Homo sapiens: one gene and its partners. The protein of the gene in region 3 interacts with the protein of the main gene of each other region in a biochemical or structural test. Each region holds a gene or a part of one and is shown on either strand. Other genes may lie near its edges.

Region 1 (7,029 bases), on a different chromosome or scaffold from region 3:
AACTTTAAAGGACAGGTTTTAAAGAAAGGGCTTTTCTTTCTTTCCAGGAAAGGAGAGTACTGGCTATCTGGACCTTGTGAAAAGATTTTTAGTACACTACTTAGCTTCTTGATTTCATGAAGAATTCATTTTGGTTTCTAATATACTGATATGGTTTGGATCTGTGTCCCCACACAAATCTCATGTTCAACTGTAATCCCCAACGTTGGAGGTGGGGCCTGGTGGGAGGCGACTGGATTATGGGGGTGTATCCTTCATGAATGGTTTAGCACGACCCCTTTGGTGCTGTTCTTGTGATAGAGTTCTCATGAGATCTGGCTGTTTAACAGTGTGTGGCACCTCCCCCATCTCTCTCTTGGTCCTGCTACTGCCATGTGAGACAGGTGGCTCCCCCTTTGCCTTCTGCCATGAGTAAAAGCTCCCGAGGACTCCGCAGAAGCAGATGCTGCCATGCTTTCTGTATAGCCCACAGAACTGTGAGCCAATTAAACCTCCTTTTTTTTTGAGACGGAGTTTCACTCTTGTTGCCCAGGCTGGAGTGCAATGGCGCGATCCCAGCTTCCTGCAACCTCCGCCTCCCGGGTTCAAGCGATTCTCCCGCCTCAGCCTCCCAAGTAGCTGGGATTACAGGCATGCACCACCAAGCCAGGCTAATTTTTGTATTTTTGGTAGAGATGGGGTTTCTCCATGTTGGTCAGGCTGGTCTCAAACTCCCGACCTCAGTGATCTGCGCATCTCGGCCTCCCAAAGTGCTGGGATTACAAGAGTGAGCCACCGCACCTGGCAAAACCCTTTTCTTTATAAATTATCCAGTCTCAGGTATTTCTTTATAGCAGTGCAAGAATGGACTGATACATATACTATACCTTCTTCTGTAAAGATAGTAACTCTTATTTCTATAACCTGTATAGTCTCTTCACTGAACTTTTACCTATATATATTCTTCATCAGTATTACTTTTTTTTTTTTTTTGAGACAGACTCTTGCTCTGTTGCCCAGGCTGGAGCACAGTGGTGTGATGTTGGCTCACTGCAACCTCTCCCTCCCAGGTTCAAGTGATTCTTGTGCCTCAGCCTCCCGAGTAGTTGGGACTATAGACACACACCACCCTGCCCTGCTAATTTTTGTATTATTGGTAGAAATCAGGTTTCACTATGTTGGCCAGGCTGTTCTTAAACTCCTGACCTCAAGTGATCCACCTTCCTTGGCCTCTCAAAGTGGATTACAGTCATGAGCCACTGCGCCTGGCCAGTATTACTTTTTCACTAGTGTTACAGCAACAGTTACTTTCACTTCTAAAAACATATAATCAAATGGCTTTATGGCACACTTATCTGCTTCCCTTCAGTTTTTTTCAGTGTTTTTGTTTTTGTTTTTTAAATATTTAGGTCCCCATCACGGACCTTCAAAGTAGAGTGAATACTGGGTCAAAATTTCTGTCCTTGAAGACAGACTATATGTTAAAGGAATAATATCATATACAGGATTAAGGCATTTCATAGAACTACTTGCCCATACATTCAATTTACAAAAAGGGACTCATTAAAACCTTAAATCTGAGACAGTTAATACAATCAAATTCAACAAAATGGCACTGCAACTATTTTAAAGGATAGCTATCCAGATAGAGAGAACCTAACAAATCAGACTTGTAACAGTCCTTATCATTTGGAATAGCTGAAAAAAAATCAACGCTAGGCAAGGGGAAGAACAAAAAGAGGTATGGCAATAATTTCAGCTATCTTGTGTCTCCAACACCTCACCCCACCAAACACACACCTCTCACACAATTCTACTTATCTTGGTCCCATTACTAGATTTACATCTCTATTGCTATTTGGTGAAGGAAGTGCAACCAATGGGACCCTCACCAGGCCAGGCACAGGTCCACAAACACTTTCTCAAGTAGCTCTTGAATTGTAAGGGGGCCTACCAAAAGAAAAGGGGACACTTCTCTAAAAAACTATTTCATTAAAGTTGTAATAACTTTAAAAAAATGTGGTTCTCTGGCATCCTGTTTTTATTTCTGCCTGGGACTCCAAAAATTTTAAATTAATGTCTCAGAGTTTTGTTTGCTTTAAAAAATTAATTTGTGGCCAGGAGCAGTGGCTCACACCTGTAATCCCAGCACTTTGGGAGGCTGAGGCGGGCGGATCACCTGAGGTTGGGAGTTCGAGACCAGCCTGACCAACATGGAGAAACTCCGTCTCTACTAAAAATACAAAATTATCTGGGCGTGGTGGTACATGCCCTATAATCCCAGCTGCTCAGAAGGCTGAGGCAGGAGAATGGCTTGAACCCGGGAGGTGGAGGTTGTGGTGAGCCGAGATTGCGCCACTGCACTCCAGCCTGGGCAACAAAAGTGAAACTCCTTCTCAAAAAAAAACAAATAATAATAATAATAATTTTTTTTTAAGATTGAGTCTTGACATCCAAGTGATAACATGACAAATACCCAACACTTTTGACAACTGTGCCTTTATCCCCAGTTTTTGGAGTACTTACAAGGAACCAGTTAACTGTCTGTTTTTGCTTCTTTAATCTTCGTAACAACAATGAAATATGTATTATTGTTCCTTTTCTACAGATGAAAAAACTGAGGAATACAGGGGCCAATGTGTCTCTAGCCTCATTTAATAAGAGGTGGATCTGAGATCTGAACACAGGCAATTGGATCTAGAATCTATGTTCTTTACCATGAAACTATGTTGCTTCCTGTCTAAATACATGCATTAAACAAATGGTAAATTATAAGCAGATAATTTCTACTTAATGGTTCAAATGGTAAATTATAAGCAGATAATTTCTACTAAAAATACAAAAATTAGCCAGGCGTGGTGGTGGGTGCCTGTAATCCCAGCTACTTGGGAGGCTGAGGCAGGAGAATTGCTTGAACCCGGGAGGCGGAGGTTGCAGTCAGTCAAGATCACACCATTGCACTCCAGCCTGGGCAACAAGAGCGAAACTCCCTCTCAAAAAAAAAAAAAAAAAAAAAAATCACACACCACATTTCACCACACAAATACCAAAACTAACATTGCTTGTCTATTTCTGGACACTCAACATACTTTTATATGTAACTCTTGTTACAGTGTATATGCCTTTTTTCTTTTTTCTGCTTTTCTCAAGCACAGTATTTTCCTATTTTCACAATATTTGTAAAGATCAATACTTTTTTTTTTTTGGAGACAAAGTCTCCCTCTGTCACCCAGGCTAGAGTGCAATGGTACCATCTTGACTCACTGCAACCTCCGTCTCCCGGGTTCAAGTGATTCTCCCGCCTCAGCCTCCTGAGTAGTTGGGACTACAGGCACGCACCATCACACCTGGCTAATTTTTTGTATTTTTAGTAAAGATGGGGTTTTGCCATGTTGGCCAAGCTGGTCTCGAACTCCTGGTCTCAAGTCATCTGCCCATCTCAGCCTCATAAAGTTCTGGGATTACAGGCATGAACCACTATGCCTGGCCAGGGTCAATACTCTTTTAAATGCATGTGCTGGAACCGATCTATTTTTTCCTCTACTGTAAGTAACCTCCAATTTTCAGAACTAAATCACAATGTCACAAATGTACTTGTATACAAAGTTTTTTCAGCATTTGGGATTGTTTTCTTAGTATAAATAAATGAAACTAGAATTATTGGGTGAATGGGCATGGATGATTAAGTCTCTTAACACATACTGGCAGACTGGGCTCTACAAATCTATACCTCTACTTGAAGAATATGAGTGTTCATTTCAATGTACCTCATTAGTGTTTTGTCTTCTTTTAAAAATATCTTTGTTAATTAAAAAGGTAAAAAATAGGAACGTAACATTCATTTATTTATTCTTTGGTTCCCCTGTGTCCATTCATCTATTGGGATCTGAATTTTTTTCTGATTTTTGTACTTCATATTTTAAACATATTAATCCATTACCATATTTGATTTTTCTCTTAAACAACTGATTTCATTTTCACAAAAGTACATCCAGTGAACTCTTTTATCACCTTTCAGAGTACAGCAGTGAGATCTGATAAATATTCTTGTTTTTGAGACGGAGTCTCGCTCTGTCCCCCAGGCTGGCCAGGCTGGAGTGCAGTGGCGCAATCTCAGCTCACTGCAACCTCCGCCTCCTGGGTTCAAGCGATTCTCCTGCCTCGGCCTCCCAAAGTGCTGGGATTACAGGCGTGAGCCACCGTGCCAGGCCATAAATACTTGTTTTTGTTTTCCTTTATAAATTCTAGATTATTTGGCTGGGCACGGTGGCTCATGCCTGTAATCCCAGCGCTTTGGGAGGCCGAGGCAGGTGGATCATAAGGTCAGGCGTTCGAGACCAGCCTGGCCAACATGGCGAAACCCAGTCTCTACTAAAAATACAAAAATTAGCTAGGCGTGGTGGCGGGTGCCTGTAATCCCAGCTACAAGGGAGGCTGAGGCAGGAGAATTGCTTGAACCCGGGAGGTGGAGGTTTCAATGAGCCAAGATTGCACCACTGCAGTCTAGCCTGGGCGACAGAGTGAGACTCCATCTCAAAAAAAAAAAAAAAAAAAAAAAATCTAGATTATTGTAACGCAACTGTGATTTCATCTGGGAATAATGTTGAAGGGTTGTACAATTTCAAATCAACACATTAAGACAACAACTACATCACTCAGTTCATTGATACAGAAACCTAAAGACAAGAGCTGGTAAAATATTTACCTATATTTTGTTCTTCAAGAACCTAACGTCTATGTTTACAGCATAGGCATTTGTCTAAAGGGCTGGTCTATTTCCTATTCTGCAATAGTATCTATCTTTTTCCATTCATGAATCTCAAGGTTGGAAGAGATGTTAATTGTGCTCTACTTTATGCTCTAAAAAAACATTCATACCAGTGTCCATCTTCTTTTTTTTTTTTGAGACAGAGTCTCGCTCTGTTGCCCAGGCTGGAGTGCAGTGGCACAATCTCTGCTCACTGAAACCTCTGCCTCCCGGGTTCACACCATTCTCCTGCCTCAGCCTCCCGAGTAGCTGGGACTACAGGCACCTGCCACCATGCCCAGCTAATTTTTTTGTATTTTTAGTAGAGACGGGGTTTCACCATGTTAGCCAGGATGGTCTCGATCTGCTGACCTTGTGATCTGCCCGCCTCGGCCTCCCAAAGTGCTGAGATTACAGGCATGAGCCACGGCACCAGGCCCAGTGTTCATCTTCTAACCTATGCTAGAGTAGCACAACTGACAGACTAGTCACTACACCAAGGAATACTTTTGCTTGAAAAATCCAACTCGTTTTCAGTTCTCAAGGTCCATTTCAGATTAAGAAGAATTGCTATCTCTTCTTAAAAGAAACATAAGTAATCTTTTCAAAAATAAATAACTCTAAAAAGACAAAAGACACGGTTGCTTTATCTTGATATCAAATACCCACTGTTACCTTTTGAAATAGTTAGTGCTGGAGACCACTGTGATCGTAGAATATCAAGACAAATGCTGCCATTACTGTTAATATTTGGATGATAAATTCTTGTTGTAAATGCAACCTACAGAAAGAAAGGAAACTTTCTGTAAACTAGTTTATTAGTATTATAGAAAGTACATTAAAAACTGCCACATTCCAATTAATTACCTTAGGTGGTTTGAAGGGGTAATCTGTTGGGAAATGAATTGTCAAGAAAAATACTCCACCCTGATAGGGACTGTCATTCTGTTGATAACAAGAAAAGTGGGATTAAAATGAGTAAATTACATAAACTGTTTATTCTGAAATTAATCTGAATACTTACTGGCCCCATTATTGTAGCTTGCCAATGGAACACTGAAAAATAACAAGAAAAAAGTCACCATGTAACAATATCTACATTGTATCTACGCCATAGTAACATATCATTCCCCTTCTAATCCAAATTCATTTATAAATAATATGATAATGAGTATGAGCAAGATGAGGAACATAAATTAACAGTCTAAAGAAACAAGAAAAATGACTAGAATGGCCTAGAACACTGATAAGGTGCTCAATGAAAAATATTTAGAGCCAGGTGTGGTGGCTCACACCTGTAATCCCAACACTTCCAGAAGCTGAGGTGAGAGGACTGCTTGAGCCTGAGAAGTGGAGGCTGCAATGAGCCATGACTGCGCCACTGCAAGACTCTCTCAAAAACAAAAACAAAAAAAACCGAAAGTATTTGGGCTAAAACTTCTTGAAACTTCATGTCAGGTAGACAAACTTCTTGACAAGGCTTACAGTTCTACTTTTAAACAGTTATTTCTTTACCTCACAGGGTAAATCATTTCTTCAAAACAATTACATATAATACACTTTTTTTTTTTTTTTTTTTTGAGACAGAGTCTCACTCTATCGCCCAGGCTGGAGTGCGCTGGCGCAATTTCGGCTCATTGCAACCCCCGCCTCCCGGGTTCAAGCAATTCTCCTGCCTCAGCCTCCCAAGTAGCTGGGACTACAGGCAAGTGCCACCACACCTGGCTAATTTTTGTATTTTTAGTAGAGACAAGGTTTTGCCACGTTTGGCCAGGTCTCAAACTCCTGACCTCAGATGATCCACCCACCTCAGCCTCCCAAAGCTGGAATTACAGGCATGACTCCTTTTATAATGCTGGTATACGGGGGACAAAACAGTAAAGTCAAGGTAGATAATACTCAAATTAAGAAAGACTGGTTTTAACAAGGAGAAAAAATTTCTAAAAACTCTTGTGTAGGTCTGTACATTACTGGCCCTCATTAAAGAAAGAAAAACATCTCTCCTAATGTAAAGGATAAGTTAAAGAGGAAAAAAGAGAAAAAAGGAGTAAAATTTAAGAAGAAAATATTAGCTGAAAGCCCAAGGTTGATTACAAGCTCCAGGGATACTTCTAATAAGTTATAAACTTGTTCAATAAATAAATATCTTCCAAATGCAGAAAATGATGCTTGTTCCATGTTCTCATGCTACTAAGTGCATCATGAGAGATCAAAAGCCAGAGTTTTTACTTATAATTAAGCTACTACTTAGCACACTTACCATTCATACTATGATCTGAGCAACCTAAGGGAAGTTGTCACTG
Region 2 (7,029 bases), on a different chromosome or scaffold from region 3:
TCTGGGCAAGTTTATGTGCCTCTATAAGAAGGGTATCTGTTGTAATATGAACAATAAATGACTGTGTGCCTAATATGTACCAGGCACTGTTTTAGACATTGGGGTGGCAGCAGTGAACAAAACAAATTTTAAGTTCCTAGATTTGTTTTGACGATTAAATGGATTAATGTGCAAATTTGAACAGGCTCTTGGCACATGACACTCCTAGTTATTACTGCTATTTTAATATCACAATTTATAATTTTTAAAAATCGTTTTTGTTTAAGAACTTTGATTTCTAGTTTAGTACTCTTAGTTAACCAGGTTGTCTCCTTTTGTAAATATTTTGAAGATTTATGTAATATAGACACAACATAAAAACTTGGCATATTGGAAAAACCAGTGTTTATGTGAACATTATTGATTCAACTTACAGAAACTTTGACGTGTGCATGTGGTTTGGTTTTTCAGCTGTTAATGTTAAAATCACATGAGGCAACTTTCAAACATTCCACATCCAACAATTTTAGTGAGTGGACAGCTCTGAACTGGAATGCTCTTCGGTTTAGGCACCTCTTCTAGAAATATGGGGTCAAGTAGCCATTGATGTCAGTATGGTATGCTTGTGTTACGTACCTATTTCGAATTTATTCTTGTCTGAAGGTCCCACATTTCAAGTATTATGATATATCTGTATTCCTCGTTAATATTTTACTGAAATGATTATTGGAATAGTTTTAACCTTTAGTCCATTTGATCGAGCTTTTGAATTTATACTTTGCTTCAGCTGTGTTCTTGGAGTAAGTTTTTTGACTGTTAGACCAATCAACTTTTTTCCTGTATTCTTTATTTGAACGAGCTGTAATATGGTCTTAAATAGGGCTATTAAACAACAGGAGTTAAAAGTGGCACTCCAAGTTGATTGGTATTGAGAGCTGTAGACAATTTTACCACTCCCATTAAACAGGGACTACAATATATGTGTTTTAGGGACGTTTGAAGATAAATATGTGAACCAAGCCTAAAAGAATAGCTCATGTTTTCATTGTATACACCCTGTTAAGTTTTCGTAAGGGTTTTTATTTCTGGAAGTATGACTTTAGTGTTTATATATGATTATAAGCAAGCGGCTAGCAGGGAAACCATGGGTAAAGGGTTAAAAAACTCTCATTTGATCTTCGTTTCCCTCCTACCACCACTTCCACTGAGATAATTTCAAGATTATCTCCATCTCGAAATTGAAAAACTTAGGCATAGAGGTTAAGAAGATGACCCAGGTTCATGTTGTGACAGTTGGGATTAGAACCTAGGCAGCCTGGTCCAGAGTATGTGCTCTTAACAACTACAGTTTGATATCATCCTTTAGTTTTTTTTTGTCATTCAGAACGGTTTACTTTTGCATATAGTATTATCTATTACAGTAGTTAAGACAATGCAGTCTCATCTAAACCCTAACTCATTTAATCCTCAAGACAACCATGTGGGATAGATGTGAGAATTTTATAGATGAAGTAACAGGCTCAGAGAAATAGTCGTCTAGTCACACAACTAGTAAGTGACTGGGATTCAAATCAGATAGGCACCAAAAGCTCAAGCTCTTTTTTGAACCATTTCAATTCCTTTTTTTGTTGTTGTTGGAGACGGAGTCTCACTGTGTTACCCAGGCTGGAGTGCAGTGGCGCGATCTCAGCTCACTGCAAGCTCTGCCTTCTGGGTTCACGCCATTCTCCTGCCTCAGCCTCCTGAGTAGCTGGGACTACAGGCGCCCACCACCACCCCCGGCTAATTTTTTTGTTTTTTTAGTAGAGGCAGGGTTTCACCGTGTTAACCAGGATGGTCTTGATCTCCTGACCTCGTGATCCACCCGCCTCAGCCTCCCAAAGTGCTGGGATTACAGGCGTGAGCCACCACGTGGCCTGGCCCTTCAATTCCTGTTTTATAATGTATGTGATTTTAGTTTGTTACCTGAAATAAGCTGCTTTGCTCTCCCACTTATACATCTAAGTAATTGGGAGTTAGCTTTACTCTTAGGTTATAGCTAATTTGTGAGTTAAGATTTTGGCTAATAATATTTTGAAAGTAGAAGTGGATTTAATTCTTTTGGGGTAGTCTCTTCAAGCACTGAAAACTAACATGTGCCAGTTAACTGCTTAGGATGTCTTAGAGTGAACAAAATATATTTATTGTCCCCAACTAGTATATAGGCTGGGTAAACTGTCTTGCATGTGTTTCATATATGGTCCTCAAAGCTTGTTGATAGCCAGCTCACTTTCTGTGTAGGATAGTTGTGACTGAAGGATGCTGATAATAATAGGACCTCAGTATTTGTTTAATTTGAAAAAGGATGCATTACTGACACTGCATACTTTTCTTTCATCATGCTCATCTGCAGTGTTGATTCTAGTTTTTGTTATTTATACAAATAAAAAGTTGAATGCTCCATCACTGGGATGAACTACTGTGTCACTAGATTGCTCTGTCAAACTTTGCCCCTGAGTTTAGGTGACCCTTTTTATCCAAGACAGGCAATCTTTGAGGATTCTCCACAGCATGTTGCTATAATCTATCTATTAAAAAAGAAACTAGGTTCGTAACACTGAGATAAAAAAATGTTTCAGATTAAAATCTCAAACCTAGGTTGGTTTTTGCATTCTTTTTTTAAATAGCAGTTTTCTTGTATCTGTTAGCGTATAGAAGAGCTTACTGAATATTATATATTGTTGGGTGTGACATGAATTACATTTATATTCCAGAACATTTGGAGTTTTTAAAAAAATTTTGTGGGTACATAGTTGGTGTATATATTTATGGGTTGCATGAAATATTTTGATACAGGTATGCAATGCATAATCACATCAGGGTAAATGGGGTATATACCTCGAGCATTTATCCTTTGTGTTACAATCCAGTTATACTTGTTTACTTATTTTTAAATGTCAGATTGTTTAGAATTTAAAAAAAAAAATACAGCTGCATGGGGGTCTTAGACTTACTAAATCATTTTCCCTGGAAACACATAATTTTGAAAATTTTCTAGGTGATTCTGAAGCTCCTCTCTGATTAAGAACCACAGATACAAGGGAGTAAAGGTCCTAATCTGCATTAGACGTAGTATTCTAGTCCCAGGGAATAAATGAGGAAGATGGTCCTTATCTATGGTAATCTCTGCGTTCAGTGGTGAAAATAAGCATGTAAACACATGAATAGTTGTTTGTCACTTTGTAATTTACCTTTCAAGAATATTAGATCTAGTAGGGGAGGTATTTAAAATAAATTTTCTATACTGTATTTTTTGTACTAGTATTATTACAATGTGATTTGTCTTTTATTATAATGACTTAATTCCCCTTGCCAAAACCAGTATTTTGAAATTAATGAAATAAAACTCTCCATTCTTGGAAATGTTGTGGTCTTGAGCTTGCTACCATAGCAGTGTTATTTCATAATTAAAAATGAATGCATTCACCAAATATCTTACTGCCCAGTTTCTCTTATTAGATAAGATTTATTCAGAATTGTATCCTCAACCTTGTTATGTAGGGAAGGGAAAAGTTTAGGGAAGTATTTTTATACTTTGTTGAAACATCTGATTTTTATCTCCTAATGATACTTTCAACATAATCTATTGTAAAAGAGACCTTCAACTTTTCATAGCTGAATTTGTCGTATTTAAATGTTTGTCAATTGTGAATCATGATTTCTTGTACCTTTTTCAGTATGAAATACTTACATTAATCCTAACCTTGCTGTAATTTCATGGCTAATGTGTAATTGAATGTTTTCTACTACTGGGCAGCTGTTTGGCTGTTAATCTTTGTTTTTTTTGTTTGTTTGTTTGTTTTGTTTGTTTTAATGTCCATAAAACACCCTTCTTGCTTTCATGGAGCAGAGCTTCAAATCTAAATTTGGGTTTCTTTGCCCATTTTTAAATAATGCTTACAAAAGAATGGCTTTGAATAATGTTAAGTGACTTTACCTTCAGTGGTGATCGAAAGAAAATTAGTAATATTCAATCCATTCTTAGTACCTTGTGTAATGAACACGCATGCTTGTTTCACCTATAATTACGACTAAACAGGAAGTTAATACCTTGTCAGTGATGCAGTGAGATACTGTGCAGTGCCTACTGTTAAACCTTAAGATAAAAAAGGATTTCTCAGAAGAAATTTCAAATTAAAATGTGTTTTAAAGGGACTATTTGGAGTTTTGTGAAATTGTTCATATCTTTTTGCCAAGCATCCTTCTCTTGAAATAACCATGTTTCTGAAGTTTGTTGTTCCCTGCCTTGATATTCGCATCTACATATTTTATACAGACATTTCATAACATTAAAGTTAATAAAACTTTATAGTAAACCAGATCTTTATATGAACAGTTACAGTAGTTACTGTCTGCCTGATGGACAGCTAATTGCACTGCACTTCGACCTCTATTGTTGGTTCGCACCTTTGTATTTTTCTAGGTTGGTTGTAAAGTCTTCTTGAGGATGATTCTTAAAATTTCTTAAGGCACTTACTCCCTTTGTTTCCCACCTCATTTTATCATCTCTTCCAGTCCCCAAAGCAGTGTTTTGTGTTGCTCAGTATAGGTTTTTGAGGCAAGGGCTGTTTTTATAATGCTGATTCACAGTCATACAAATCTTGTCTTTTGAGTCATGTAAATCTTGTCTTTAGTTCTGAAAGAAATAGACTCTCAAATAGAATACAAGAAATTAACCTTTAGTAATGGCATAAGCTTTTAGTTTTCCGGAAAGTGCTGAGAGGAAATGTATCTATACTACTGCGTTCTGTCCTCTGTATGACCTTTGTGTGATGACGTGCAAAATAGATGGTAGAGATTGGGATAACAAATGATTTGTGGAACATCGTGGTGATAATTTTACTGTCTTAAAGGTAGAATCCATGAACTTGGCCTTGCCACTATATAGGCTTTTGAATTTTGACAAGCCTTGGGGGGATGAAACCTAGAATAAGTTATTTATGGCGTTACGCTTTAATAGGGTTGACACTTAAAACCTTGTTTTCATAAATGCTACCTTTTGGTTATGTTGATCTGATGAACAGATACTGGCTGTCATTGAAAGAAAGTTAACCGAATGTTCAGATACTTATTGGGCTCCTGGAACATGGCTGCTCTGTAGCTTCATGAATATTCATAATATTCATAAATATTTGTGAATAAATATTTTTAGTATTTCCAATTTATAAGCTCTTTGAAAGGAGGGAATTTTTTTTTTTTTTTTTGAGGCGGAGTCTTGGTCAGCTGCCCAGGCTAGAGTGCAGTGGCGCAACTGCGGCTTACTGCAACCACCGTCTCCTGGGTTCAAGCAATTCTCCTGTCTCAGCCTCTCGAGTAGCTGGGATTACAGGCACCCGCCATCATGCCCGGCTAATTTTTATATTTTAGTAGAGATGGGATTTCACGATGTTGGCCAGGCTGGTCTTGAATTCCTGACCTCAGGTGATCCGCCTGCCTTGGCTTCCCAAAGTGCTAGGATTACAAGCGTGAGCCACCACGCCCAGCAAGGGAGGGGACATTCTTATGTTTCTCCTAGCATCCTTTCAGGTCTTTAATGTTTTCAATACCTTGGCCTACTGTTCTTTGTAGCCTGTGGTTGGTCACCACTGCTAGTACCACTTATCATTGAATGAGGAAGATAGAGAATAGAGAAGCAGAAAGCATAGTTTAACATCTCCAACAATCAACTGTTAAATCCCATATCCCATAGTGACTACAGTAAAGGTCTTCCTCAAGATAAACCATTTGCAGGCTTTGTATTAAAAATCTCATGTAAGGAATGTTTCAGAATAAAAAAAAAAATAGTGACCAAACCCATTACTGCTTAAATCATGTACTTCCAGATGAGAACACTCACCAGTGGCTTAAGCTGTACCTGTTGGTTGCCTTTTAGAGAGATTTTTTTGGTGAAAAAAATCCTGCCCTATTTTCTACCATGGTGCCCACCAGGTCTTCAGGAAATAGGCAAACAACTCAGTTGTGTAAAGTCTGTTGCTGTCTCAAATTTCTTTGTAGTGTTTTAACTAATGAGGCGAACTAGACCATGTGAGAGCTTTGAGAGGGTCTCATTTACCTAGCTTAGAAAGAAGGCAGAGGGGTCTCCTTGACTTCTTTTCCTATAGGTTTTTTAAGGCTTTTAAATACAAGTATTTTTTCCAGTGAGAAGGTCTGGATTCTCACACTAGCCAAGTGTGCAGAAAGTTTGAGGAGAAGCAGCTCAGAGGAAGATGACACTAAAAGGAGAAAGTTTCCTAAAAGAGCACTCTGTGGAAAAGAAATGTCCAACCTTTTGTTCTTTTTATAGCTAGTACAGTTTCTTAGTGTTGTACCCTGATTGTATGTGCTTGATCTTAGTGTCCCTTCAACGTGAGTGGAACCTTGAGCAATTCCTAAAGTAAGTCAGTGTCCCCAACCAAACATTTTCCTGTTTCAGTGGCCTTAATAGTTGAGTAATGCTGTTCCCCTTAGGTGAGGGGTAGTCAGCACAGTATAAAAAAATTTTACAGGTGCCGTGTGAGAGCTGTTCCTTCTGGTTCTTGGCACTGTTCCTCTTCCTCTAGACTGCTAGGAAGGAATAAGCTGAAAATTTCAATTGTGTAATTTTTTAGTGTTTTTGTCCCTGAAGCCTGTGAAACTTTAGGCTCTAAAAACATTTTGTTAGGTGACTATCGTAGACAAAATTACTTTTAAAAATGCTGAGTATGGGTGTCGTTGGAAATTGATTTCCAGTCCAGTAAATAGTCTTGCTGTGGGATAGAATCATTTTCTCAGGCCATGTAACTTGAAAAATAGTACTGGATTCACACTACGTACGAATAATGAGATACAGACTAACGGTGGATGGTTATGCGGAAATAAATACTAAGGAAAACATTAGTTTTCCATATCGTGTTCATTCTGGAGCATTGAGTAATAGTTTGGTGCAGTTGAGAATTTTTTTCCCTCAGTTTGCCAAACATTAAATTATCTTTGCAAGGACACCCTGTTGAGAAAGGAACCTTTTTGAAACTTACCCCTAGTCCAAATTTTTAA
Region 3 (6,878 bases):
TGAAGATACTGTGTCTGATGCTTCTGACTGAGATCTGTGTTCAAGATTCAGACTTGATTCCTGACTGAAATAAGTGATAGAAGAGTATACGTAAATGGTACTGTCAAAGATTATAACATGGTAGGCAGAGAACCAAGAATGGGGAGGGAGGATTCTGCACAGGAGACCTGAGAAAGAGTGGCCTAAGACAAGGCAGAAGAGCAGAGAATGTAAGGTGACAGAACCAAGGGAGCAGTTTCCAGGAGGCAGTGGTCAGCAGTGTGGAAGGCTGCAGAGAGATCAGATGTTATGAAAACTGAGAAGCAACCTTTCAATTTGGCCATTATGCCACAGTGAAATTGATACAAGCAATGTATACAGTAAAATGGAGGGAGCTGCTAAATTTCTGTAGTTGAAGAGGAATTTGGAAGGTAATAGCAATCTAAGTATAGACAGCTTTTCTAAATAGAAGGGACAAAGTAGAGGGAGAATTTATGAACAGGAGTGGGAATATTTAAGGGAGTAAGAGTCTTGAGTCAATCTCTCTTCCCTCAAGAAATAAAAATTACCTGTAGAAAGGACAGAAGGATGGCTTCTACCTTAAGACTCGAGGTCAGAAAGAATGCAAATTTAGACAGGTCTGCAGGCATAAGGGTGGGGGTATGTAGGAGTTCATGCCTGATGTGTGCAGTACTAAACAATGATACATATACTACTACTACTACCACTACTAAGCACTAACATTTACTGAGCACTTATCATATGCCAGTGTTCTTCATGGAGCTAAGTTTGCTTAACAGTATTTCTTAAATAATGGGAGCTATTCATATATTGAAAGCTTAGTGTTTTTCAGAAGTTGAGTGTGTAACATTTGGATGTGGCCTAAAAATAGCAACCGTGACTTCTATCCCACCATATCTGAATTTTGTCTCTTCCATGCTCGACTTATTTCTGATCCTGGGGCATGCTGAGTAGTAAAAAAAGTTGTTCTTGCATTTTGATTCATCTGTTATGACTGGCATCAATAAGAAATCTTCAGCAATAAAACAGCTCTGTCAAAAAACAACTTCACCAGCAATTTAGGGCAAAATGTTTCCTTTAAAAAAAAGTTTGTTGGCTGGGCATGGTGGATCATGCCTGTAATCCCAGCACTTTGGGAGGCCGAGGCGGGCGGATCACGAGGTCAGGAGATCGAGCCCATCCTGGCTAACACGGTGAAACCCCGTCTCTACTAAAAATACAAAAAATTAGCCAGGCGTGGTGGCGGGTGCCTGTAGTCCCAGCTACTTGGGAGGCTGAGGCAGGAGAATGGCATGAACCTGGGAGGTGGAGCTTGCAATGAGCCAAGATTGCGCCACTGCACTCCAGCATGGGCGACGGAGCAAGACTCTGTCTCAAAAAAATAATAATAATAATAAAATAAAAAGTTTGTTAGTATTAGCAGATACATATTACTAGGTACCCCCCATGCTCAATGAAGTGTTGGGTTACTCTGAAAAAGTGTCCAATCTTACAGGTGTGACTTCCTCTGGAACTGCAAGTTCTTGAGGGCAGGGATAGAGATTGTTCATCTTTTATTGTTTCCCAAGGTCTGGCACATAAATAGTAGTTCAAGTAGTCCAACATATGACACATAAATAGTTCTGGGTAAACATTAGCTCAAAGTTTGCTCAAGGCATTGATGCAGATGCTTATAAAATTAAATTGCTCTTTTTACTGTATACCTGAAATGAGAAAATTATTAGAAACTACTGGGTCTCATTTGGACTAGAAAAGTCTGAAGAAATCACTGTTCACTTAGTAGATACAAAGTTGTTTTTCTGGGAAAAACACACCTAAAAAAAAAAAAACACATGGGTCTGATATGGGAGAATTTTTTTATTTTTCATATAAACAGGTGTATAGGGAAGTGGAACACTGCTAGTATCTTAAGGATTCCTGAAAGTATTTATGTTGGTAAGTTTGATGAGCAAACATTTCTAAATTTGAAAATGGATAAAACAAAAAGCACAGTGAAATCTTGAAAGAATTCTAATACTAATGTCACACATAAGAATACAGATTTAAAATTAATGAACTAAAACGGATATACGTAATTTCTCCAGGAGGAATTAAGATCCTCCTTGATCTCAGTAAAGCAATGAATAGTCATTCTGACATCTAGCTAAAAGCAGACTTATTTCCCTTCGGTCTTTAATCTTTTTGGAACTCAGGGATTTCCGCCACACTTTGATACACCAGGCCATTATAAAATTACACTTAATTTATTGTCAATTTCTACTTAAAAGGAAGAATACCTATAAGTATCTCCATATGCTAGATATAGTAGAAATGGTATGCTTTAATTAGTCCAACAATAAAGTCCTTAAAGATTTACATTCTTTGTTGCCTATTTTGAAAACTTGCGAAGATAAATTTTTTTAAAGATTATAATTCTTACTAGTCCTTTCCATGAAATATAACAGCAAATAGTTTCCAAATGTGGATGTGTAATGAGAGGAAATGAAAAGTGAGTAAAGAGCTGAGTTAAAACATCTTAAAATCGAATATGGCTTAATACTATCATTATCATCAGTTGTCCTGGAATAACTTAAATTCTTCTAGCTTATTGTTGGTTTTTCAATGGTTGGTTATAGTTGTGAGGCGGATACACACACACACCCACACACTTGGCTATACAAAAAAGATGTTCCGAGACTGACAGTTAAAAATTACACTGCTGGCCGAGCACTGTGGCTCATGCCTGTAGTCCCAAAACTTTGGGAGGCCGAGGTGGGAGGATCACTTGAGGCCAGGAGCTCGAGACCAGCCTGGGCCTAACATAGCAAGACACCATTTCTAAGTTTAAAAATAAAAATAAATTTAAAAAAGATACACTGCTATGTACGACTGTTGATATAAAAAATCTGAATACTAGACATGGGTACTCATCTAGTACTTCAAGGGCTTATCAACAAAGTTGCAAGTTGTAACACTATGAATTGTTAGTGATACTCTTTTGGCTTTGCTAGCAAGTGTTGTAAAGCTATACACACACACACACACACACACACACATACACACACACACCTTTTAAAATGGTGACCCTGGTACCAAATATGACTTTAAATGGATTTAATTTTAATGGCTTTAACTACGTTCAGCTGTCATATGGATCAAAATTAGCCTCTATCCAGCTGGGGTCAACCAGGGAGCCACTTTTCTTAACCGACGACCTACTGAACGTCAACAACTGCAGGAGACGGGACTTTACCTTCGTCTCTGGTAAACTAGTTGACACATCCTGTGTTGGCAAGAGGCCTAAGTAGATGACCTTGGTCCTCTAAAATCTGGCCTGCACTCTCGGGGCACCCCTGCAACATCTACAAAGGCAGCTCCAGATAGAAAAGGGTTGGGGTCGAAAAGCCAATAACGGCAGGCACCTGCCCCGCCTCGGGGCTGGGGGGCTATTCCAGCGGCTTCAGCTAACTTTCAGAGCCATTCGTTTCCCAACAAAGTCTGAGGCGTTCCTCTGCTGGGTACACCAAGGGGCTCTGCAACCCTCCTGGGGGGGGGGGTGCCCAGAGGGCTTCCGGAAGTCCCAGGTTTATTCTTTCGGGTCACAGACAGCAGAAACTAAAAAGAGGGATTACCCTTTCTGTCCAGTCGCAAGATGGCGACCGAGCCTGGTGGGACTCCGAGGGGCCGCAGGCCACCTCCTCTTCCCAATGGCCCGTGCGCCGGCGGCGACGGCAAGCGGGAGGGAGGCGGGGCCGGCGAAGGAAGGAGGGGCGGAGCGCGGCGCCCTCCCGCGCGTCTTGGCCCCGCCCCACGTCCCCGCGTCCCGGCCTGGAGCCCTCGCCCGGCCGGGCGGCGCGCGCTGCCTGCCGGGATACTCGGCCCGCCCAGCCAGTCCTCCCGTCTTGCGCCGCGGCCGCGAGATCCGTGTGTCTCCCAAGATGGTGGCGCTGGGCTCGGGGTGACTACAGGAGACGACGGGGCCTTTTCCCTTCGCCAGGACCCGACACACCAGGCTTCGCTCGCTCGCGCACCCCTCCGCCGCGTAGCCATCCGCCAGCGCGGGCGCCCGCCATCCGCCGCCTACTTACGCTTCACCTCTGCCGACCCGGCGCGCTCGGCTGCGGGCGGCGGCGCCTCCTTCGGCTCCTCCTCGGAATAGCTCGCGGCCTGTAGCCCCTGGCAGGAGGGCCCCTCAGCCCCCCGGTGTGGACAGGCAGCGGCGGCTGGCGACGAACGCCGGGATTTCGGCGGCCCCGGCGCTCCCTTTCCCGGCCTCGTTTTCCGGATAAGGAAGCGCGGGTCCCGCATGAGCCCCGGCGGTGGCGGCAGCGAAAGAGAACGAGGCGGTGGCGGGCGGAGGCGGCGGGCGAGGGCGACTACGACCAGTGAGGCGGCCGCCGCAGCCCAGGCGCGGGGGCGACGACAGGTCAGTGTTGCCGCGGCCTGCGCCAGGCGGCGCTGGCTCCCCTCCGTCACTCGGCCGGCCTTCGGGGCCCGCTGTGGCGAGGTCGACACCCCCCTTCCCCGCCCCCCGCCGCCGAGGCGAGTGTTTGGGGGCGCGTGGTCCGAAGGGGCTGGTGCCAGAAGTAGGCCCCTGGTGGCCGCGGCTGCTGCAGCCGTAACTGTCAGTCCTGGCTGAGCGACGGCGGGAGGGTTTTGTCGCCCGAGGGGACGCGAGCGGGCCCGGGGCGGGGCGGGACGTGCGAGGCGTCGAGATTTGGGCCTCCTAGGAGCCAGGCTCTTCGAGCCAGCCGGGGCCCCAGACAGGGAAGGGCAGGCCCTTTCCTTCAAAGGGGAGCCCTTTCTCGGCGTTTTCAAGGTTTTTGGCTCTCTTGGGGAAGACATATTTAGCCGTGTGCTTGGTGGGTTGGGGTTTTGGGGGTGGATTGATGGGAAGGGAGGGCGGATGAAGTGGTATGTCAAGCCCAAGGGTTGTGCGCACAGGTTACTCTGTGTTACCGGCCACCAGGATTTCTGAAGTTGAACGTGAGTTATTGGCTTTGCCAGAGACTGCTGTGTTATATGCAGACCTGTATGCAAGCAGTTGGCCTTTTTTCCCCCCCCTTTTCAGTGTAGAAAATGAAAAGGATGCTTTCCTCATCTTGGTGGTAAAGGCTTTTGTTGGTAAAGGTAGAATTGAATGTACCAAATGCCTTAGTCCGTAAAATTTTAGAAATAATTTTAATACAGACACTGGTGAAGCTTGGCAACCTTGAAAGAGAATTTAGCGTCTACATTTTTTAAATGACTTTTTATGGATATGCTAAATTAGTAACAGTCCAAAATCTGTTTGAGATTATTAAGTGGCGAGGGTGCTGTTGAAAATGTAAACTAATAGCATATGGGGTTTACAGTGCACAGTTAACCTCAATCATGAAGAAATGTGGATATGACCCGTAATTTTGGATCATTTTACTGCCTGCAATATTGAGAGAAGCAGCAAATTATTACAGTTTTTTTTGGGAGACGACCTAAAGTTTAAGAAATACAACTGTTGAAAGTTACCTGTCAGAGACACAAAGGTACCCAATCAATCTTGTTGAATAAATTGGACAAGTGGGATAAGGTGTTTGTCTCACACTTCTGATCAATAAGTACTCTTACTTAAGAAGTGATTTGGTAAATCATGTAAAATTTAGAATTTAGGAGAGATAAGAAAGTTGTAACTTGGTGTGTATAGTGGAAATAGCTTTGAAATTAGATCCTGTTTTTAAATCCAAGCTACTTACCACATTTTTAGTGAAATGAATACATTATTAATGATGCTACTGATAAGCCCTAAGGATGACCAGAAGCCCTTTTAAGAAACACTAATACAGTTGACCAAAAAATAAAAAAGGAAATAGCTTCAAGAAATAATTTTCAATCTTTGTGTATTTATAATATACACAGGAGAAATAAAAGAACAGAATATGAAGAGGTAACTTATAATCTTTACAAAATTAGAATGTAAACTATGCTAGTCTTACTGTGTCAATATTTATTAACCTGCATTAGTTTGCTAAGTAGTATGCTCACTATCCTCTGGACATTGCCCCTGTCCCTGAGGAGCTTAACTTTATACAGAGATACAAAATACTGTGTTTTGATTTCCTTTCAGAGGATTTATAAGCTACTTATGTTTTATCTGTCCTAAATTCTGCCCTTTTTTTTCCCATGGCTGAAAAAATAACTTCCTAAGAAAGGTACATACTAGTCAGAGGTGTGGGGAAAACGTGTTCTCATCCCACTTGTGCAGTCCATTTAACAGGATTTATTGGGTACCTACAGTGTCTTTGACATGTAACATTTAATCAGTTGTATTTCTTAAACTTTAGATAATTTCTATTTCGATCATTTCTATTTCAATCTCCTCCCTCTCCCCTCCAAAAAAATTTACTGTGTAAACTGTGATAATACACTGTTTCTCTCAGTGTCAGTCAGTGGAATGATCCAGATTTATAGGTCATAGCAAAATTTTTCATCCCAAGCTCTTGAAATGATGTTTCCAAATGTCCATTTTCTTAAATGACTGCTAGTTATGTTCTCCAATCATGTTACACATATTTTGTTTAGACTTATAATTGTGTAGGTCTAAATGTAGAAACATTACATTATGTACATATGCAGCTGCTGAAAGAAAATTAGTTTTCTAATTTTTAGATCGGGGTGAAGACAAACTTTTAGAAGTGATCTTTCGGTAAAATACTGGATGAAGTCTTAGGTGCTCTTTTTATGTTGGTTCAGGACAAAAGTTTTTTGACTGCTTTTTGAGTTTTCCCCTCACTGCCAAATGTAAGGATAAAATGTAGTAACAAGACATCTTGGTATGTATAGTGGTAATATCTTTGGAATTAGACCCTAATTTTAATTCTGGCCTTATTAATCTTGGTAAGCCACAGTTTTGTCATCTGTAAAAT

What was found.
Region 1: the proteins of UBE3A (region 3) and UBE2D2 form a complex in vitro, tested with the Homo sapiens proteins (12 studies listed by BioGRID, with this or other methods).
Region 2: the proteins of UBE3A (region 3) and UBE2D3 form a complex in vitro, tested with the Homo sapiens proteins (5 studies listed by BioGRID, with this or other methods).

What each region holds. Positions count from the first base shown.
Region 1 is NC_000005.10:139,613,339-139,620,367, reverse strand, and holds part of UBE2D2 (ubiquitin-conjugating enzyme E2 D2), read right to left. Parts: intron 5,783-7,029; coding exon 5,751-5,782; intron 5,672-5,750; coding exon 5,594-5,671; intron 5,508-5,593; coding exon 5,402-5,507; intron 1-5,401.
Region 2 is NC_000004.12:102,817,523-102,824,551, reverse strand, and holds part of UBE2D3 (ubiquitin-conjugating enzyme E2 D3), read left to right. Parts: intron 1-7,029. UniProt on the Homo sapiens protein: Accepts ubiquitin from the E1 complex and catalyzes its covalent attachment to other proteins. In vitro catalyzes 'Lys-11'-, as well as 'Lys-48'-linked polyubiquitination.
Region 3 is NC_000015.10:25,436,016-25,442,893, reverse strand, and holds the start of UBE3A (ubiquitin-protein ligase E3A), read left to right. Parts: upstream 1-3,869; 5' UTR 3,870-4,405; intron 4,406-4,569; exon of another isoform or gene 4,570-4,841; intron 4,842-6,878. UniProt on the Homo sapiens protein: E3 ubiquitin-protein ligase which accepts ubiquitin from an E2 ubiquitin-conjugating enzyme in the form of a thioester and transfers it to its substrates.